Linked DNA regions of Homo sapiens. The protein of the gene in region 1 purifies or fractionates together with the protein of each later gene. This does not show direct contact. Each region holds a gene or a part of one and is shown on either strand. Other genes may lie near its edges. The genes, in order: SACS and ACVR1.

The links.
Region 2: the proteins of SACS (region 1) and ACVR1 purify together in Homo sapiens (co-immunoprecipitation; one large-scale study listed by IntAct). This does not show direct contact.

What each region holds. Positions count from the first base shown.
Region 1 is NC_000013.11:23,427,195-23,431,027, reverse strand, and holds part of SACS (sacsin), read left to right. Parts: intron 1-2,158; exon of another isoform or gene 2,159-3,833. UniProt on the Homo sapiens protein: Co-chaperone which acts as a regulator of the Hsp70 chaperone machinery and may be involved in the processing of other ataxia-linked proteins.
Region 2 is NC_000002.12:157,737,952-157,740,476, reverse strand, and holds part of ACVR1 (activin receptor type-1 precursor), read left to right. Parts: intron 1-1,906; coding exon 1,907-2,037; intron 2,038-2,525. UniProt on the Homo sapiens protein: Bone morphogenetic protein (BMP) type I receptor that is involved in a wide variety of biological processes, including bone, heart, cartilage, nervous, and reproductive system development and regulation.

The DNA.
Region 1 (3,833 bases):
AAAAGGAGAGACTGACTAGATGGTAAGACTCGATTCCCTTGGGGAGCATCACTGAGTTCTCAGACTGAACTCTGAGCTCTGTTCCTACCATGGTATCCCCCTCAAGGCACTTCAAATTGACGACGATGTGAAACCCAAGGTGACACGTTGGTTCTGGGTTTTGTCAGGAGAGATCTGTGGTCCAATTATAATAACCTTACATCCAGACAAACATTTGTTTTAAATATTCTGCTCGAGATTACACCATGAGTTTGTCATCTGGGGCAGAAAATAAGGGCTCTACAGTCCACATAGCCTTTTAATGTGTTCTGAAATGACATTTAAAAATAAATCAAAGCCATCCTAATATAATTATTGGTGATCATTTAAATCCTTACCTCATTAAAGTACTAAGTGCTAGAAAGGAGTATTTGAATTCTATACGTATCTAGAATTTGTGCACATTTTCACATAGTACTACTTTAGCCTTTTTCCTTGTTTTTAATGCAATGATAAATTTCACCATTTAAAAACCCTGATAGGATTACAAGATTAAATACAAAAAATATTGCATAAGACATAAACATACTAAAAAATAATTCGTGGTTTATCTGAAACTCAAACTTAAGGTGTATATGTTTATATTTATAATTTTTATTTGCTAAATTTGGCAATATGATATAAACAGAGCTTTACTTGATCAATGATAGTTACTTAGAGCTTAAGGATATTAGTTTGTTAGGTCTTTAAGCTTCAAACATAAATTACAACCAATCTTTATGAGTTTTTTGTCAATTACACCAAATATTCCTTTAGTTTTATTTATTAATTTTTTTTTTTTGAGATGTTGTCTAACTCTGTCACCCAGGCTGGAGGCCAGTGGTGCAATCTCGGCTCACTGCAACCTCCACTTCCCGGGTTCCAGTGATTCTCCTGCCTCAGCCTCTCGAGTGGCTGGGATTACAAGTGACTGCTACCACGTCCGGCTAATTTTTGTATTTTTAGTAGAGACGGAGTTTCACCATGTTGCCCAGGCTGGTCCTGAACTCCTGATCTCCAGTGATCTGCCCACTTCAGCCTCCCAAAGTGCTGGGATTACAGGCGTGAGCCCAGCCAATATTATATTAAATGTTTATGCTAAGTGACCATCCAGAGACAATCCTGATTACAAAGAACAGATCTATGTTCATTTTACTGTCATATTCCTGAGAGTCCCTGCTAAGAATAGTAATAAAAAGTACCCAAGATTTTAATGTATTTGGAGGAAGATATACTGGGTTTTGGAACCTGGCTCCACATCATACTAGTTCTGACACTTAACCTCTTGCAGCCTCAGCTTCCTCCTTCTTAAATGGGATTCATGATAGGTTAAAAATCCCTACCTCGGGCCTGGCACGGTGGCTCACGCCTGTAATCCCAGCACTTTGGGAGGGCCAGGTGGGCAGATCACGAGGTCAGGAGATCGAGACCATCCTGGCTAACACGGTGAAACCCCGTCTCTACTAAAAATACAAAAAAATTAGCCGGGCATGGTGGCGGGCGCCTGTAGTCCCAGTTACTCAGGAGGCTGAGGCAGGAGAATGGCGTGAACCCGGGAGGCGGAGCTTGCAGTGAGCCGATATCGCACCACTGCACTCCAGCCCGGGTGACAGAGCGAGACTCCGTCTCAAAAAAAAAAAAAAAAAAAAAAAAAAAAAAAAAAATCCCTACCTCAACGACTGAATCACAGTTTAGTGAGCCTCTGCCATGGTTGTACATGGTCAATCCTCCCCAAAGAATTAGTTTTTAAAGAAATAATTGAATATTATTTTTCCTTCAAAAAGTCAATATTATTAGATAATATCAATTAAGATATTATGTATTCTGAAATGACACTTAAACATCAAATATATTTTAGTCATATAATCTATTTTTAAAATTTCATTTAGCAGCTTTGAGATATTCACATACCATACAATTCACTCATATGTGATATTATTTTTATGTAAAATTTTATCTTTGAGAATAATTGAGCTTTTGAAGGCAAACCTAAGACTCTGGGAGATTCTATTTCGGTGCCAGCCTTCTAGTCTCCTGCCTCCACAATTAGCTCTGCCAGTTGACAAGCTAGAATCTGAGGCCAGATAAACTACATACAAAATATGTGTAGTTTTATTATCTGTAAATTGGCTAAAGAGACTAAATTATTCACTCTTTATTGAATACTTTCTGTATCCATAAACCTAAGTAGGAGAGTCAAAGGTGAATAAGATATTCTTGAGCAACTTTCAGCAAAGTAGATGAGAAAGATTTGTATGACACAGAAGGGATTTGGAGCACTGGGGGAATAATTTATATATTTTTCTTATTATTGAAATACAGTATTTTTTCTGTTGTACATTTTACATCGAAATCTTTATTACACACACACAAAAGATCAGTAGCACTCTCCTTTACCTTCACCTTTTGTGCTCTAGAAACTATTTTACGTACATATTTAATTTCAGGATTATATTTAAGGTCTGGTACTGGCTGTGGTGACCCCCGACCTTTCCTGCAGCACACTATGCCAACACAGGTCTTTCATTAATGTCATCCAAAATGCTTGCTGTGCCTTACCTTTAAAGGTCTATTGATTTATAGCGTGAATTCATCCGACTTTTCCATTTTGCAAATATTCTATTTTTAAACCAATTTAGTCTTTGCTGACTCATATTTTCTCCTGAAGTTAGGAGAGTGAGATGATTACTTCGCTGATAATTCCCATGGAGGCGTTCTGTGGGCCTGAAGTCTGTCTGCATTTGGCTCCTTGTTTTTGTAATGATAGCGGCTTTCAAGGGTCAGCTTTCACCATATTCCAGAGGATTTGGCCATGTATGAATTTGGTTGAACCAAAAGGATGAATTTTTCATTCCCATCTTCAGATGAACATGGACCCCATTTCTTAGGAGATCACCAAGGGCAATTCTGCCTCTATTCCTTTCTCAAAGAGCGTTTCTAGGGAAACTCAAGCTGTTCTGCCAGGTGCAGCTGCAGAGGCGTGTCTGTGAACACGGCAGCACTGAAAACTATGAAAAGCGAAGGAATCCTTCAGGGAAGAGGGGCTTTACTAGTCCCAAAGACACTCTTAAACAAACAGACAAGACAGCATATCAGAGGAGATAGAGTATTCGTGTGGTTCCTGATTGTATTTTAACCTCATTCCTGCAGGAGAGGCCTTTCTTGTCCCGTCCTCGTCCTCGGGGACCAGCCAGGTGTTGCTGTCCTAGTTTCTGGGAAGCAGCTTTATCCCCCCTTCTCTCCGGTGCAATTCACTTTGTCACCTCAGGAACTTCTTCACTTCCCACACTCTTCTCCTGCCTCCCTCTGCCAAAAGGCTCTACCTCTGCCAAAGGGCGGCGTTTAGCTCAGGGAACAGCTCCCATTATTTATACAATAGTTATGATTTAAGTCCCCAGTCTCCTGGCTGTTCCTGTTTGAAACTGTGTAACTCAAAGAACTTTTCCCATCAGTGAGTAAGTGCAGCTGGCATGTTTATCTTCCTACTCCTTAAATGAGATCATATGTACAGTAGTGCCAAGTTTTCCTACTGTGGGTCAAGCCCATATGCCAAAATAGGATATTTTTGCTGGGAAGGCCAAGAGGTCACTGCGTGGCACATCTGCTTGCTAGCTGTGGGCAGTGGCTTGAGGTTCCAAGCTGGGGAGGAGGGGAGCCCCTGTCCCTAACAGCTGCTGGACAGCACTGATTGTTTTGACCCCTGAAGCATGAGAGGAGGTCATGAATCAGTGGGCAGAGAGTATCATGAACACATTTCATGTCACTTCATGTGTTAAAAAATATTAGATCAGCAAAAGTAGTAGCATCTAATATTT
Region 2 (2,525 bases), on another chromosome or scaffold:
GAAAACGCATAAAATATCTCTCTAGGTCCATGTTCAGCTGTATTTTAGATGGTGTCTGTTAGTACTGAAAATAATTAAAAGATTTTTGTTTGAATGTTTCCTGGGATCCTTACAGGAGAAGAAGGGCCTCTAAGATGAGGTGTTCCAAGATTTCTGAGAGTAGCAGTTTATACCCAATATGATGTTTATGATTTGCCAGGAAAGGTTTTAATCCACTGACTGATATGCATTTCAAATGCAGTTACACAATGTGGGTAAGTTATTTGGAATTAACTAGTTTTTTTTTTTTTTTGAGACAGAATCTCACTCTGTCACCCAGGCTGGAGTGCAGTGGTCTGATCTTGGCTCATTGCAACATCCACCTCCCGGGTTCAAGCAAATCTTGTGCCTCAGCCTCCTGAGTTAGCTGGAACTACAGGCACGCGCCAACACACCCGGCTAATTTTTGTATTTTTAGTAGAGACAGGGTCTTGCCATGTTGCCCAGGCTTGTCTCGAACACTGACCTCAAGTGGTCCACCCACCACGACCTCCCAAAGTGCTGAGATTACAGGCGTGAACGACCACACCCAGCCTAGATTTTTAAAAAATATAATTTAGACTTGTTTCCATCTCAAATATAAACCTTTATTTAGCCAAATTTGTGAAGTTTTAAAAAGATATGTAGCATTTCTTGAAAAGATGCTCCTTATATCTAATCTTTTGCATAAATGGTTTGTATTTGTATGGAATTTGTAAGGATGGATTCCCACTGTTGAGTAATTTCTGTGATAAATGAAAAGGGAATTGAAGCTTTTCAGGTGGCTTGTAGGAACTAGAACAACCGAATTACAACTTTCCTCACACTCCTTCTGTCGCCTCCAACAACTTCTTAGGTATTTAGGAATAGAAGAAAGTCGCCTGGAGGAAGAAAAGAGAGCAGTAAACCAAGTTATTACCTCATTGTTTGAACCCTTTGTTGAGGGAAAGGAAATAATAGATGTCTTGGTTTTATTTCTATGAAGGGGAAGAATCCATTTTCTAATTCCAAATGATGAAGTTAAAAATTTTTCTGTTTAAGGAGTTGATATAATTCTGCTGGAAAAGAAAAAGTTTCCAGGCCATTGGAAATCATGCAGGGGCAGAAGCTGGTATTAGCTACTGTTCATATTTGCTTTTGGGCAGAGGAAGAGTTCATTATTTATCCTTCTTTTCCTCTGCCTTCCCACATGGCTATCCTCTTTACATTTTATTTTGTGCCTTCAATATGATAGTAAATAATAGAGCCATCAGTCAGACAGCTGTGCCTGTAGTTAGAGGGTACTCAGTACATGTAGAATGAATGAATGAGGAAATGAGTATTTCCTATGATATTATTTGCATCCCTCCTAATGGAAGAGATTAATTTATAGCAATGTTTTTCTTAACAAAATACTTTTCTAACAAAGAAAGGGGTATTTTGATGATGGTCTTGGTTTATTACTCCCTAGCTCTAGTTTGTGGACAACTTTTTATTTCTATTTATGGTTTGAAACCACTAGATTCAGGTACTTTCCATAGGTAGCTTGGGTGGTTTTTATCACCAAAGGAATTTTTGTTCTATGTCTCCAGTGCCCTGTTGGGCGTTACAGAGCTGTTAATATACACTGTTGGAGAATTTTGCTAATAGTTATGATTACATGAGAAGTTTTCACGTATTTCCTTCTAACAATTATCCTTCTTCCAATACCATGCAGGGTGTGTATTTATTGCCTTTTTCTCCCACCTGTTTTAGGACCTACCTCTAGCTTCCAGGACTGCCCTGAGGTATGAGGAAGGTGATTAGTATTTTCTTCTGTCACATTATAACCTGTGACACCCATCAATGAAACCTTGGGGCAACCTGTACTCTCTTGCTAACCGAACACAATTCTTGTCCTTGTGTGCAGGTATAGTGGAGGATTACAAGCCACCGTTCTACGATGTGGTTCCCAATGACCCAAGTTTTGAAGATATGAGGAAGGTAGTCTGTGTGGATCAACAAAGGCCAAACATACCCAACAGATGGTTCTCAGACCCGGTAAGAATGCCAGTTTCTCAGTTTTAGAGCTCTTTTCCATTGTTTGCTATTTGTTTCCCTTTGAGTTTCAACTGGTATTGCATCTGAGTGATCTGTCCCGTGGATCTGTTGTTTTCTCTTCCTATTTTATATAGAAGGGTTTAGATCTAGAAGAGTAAGTTCAGAAAAATACTCCATTCTTGAAGAAGCCATATCTCATAGGGGTTGCTAGTGAATGACAATATTTGTAAGAATTTCTGTGAATATGCAGCTTCAGGAATCGGGAGACTCATGACTACTGCTATTAGCCCTAAGACTGCATGTATAAACCAAGAGACTTTAAGTGAAGCTTTTAACCTCCTTTCCATCTCTGTATATCTGAAATCCCAAACACAAGCTGCTGGATGCTGAAGATCCTGTATTGCTACTCATAAGTAGTAGCAGGTATAAAACAATGAGAAATGACCCTATTTGGAAATTTCAGGATTATCTCTAGGTTAGTATTGCTG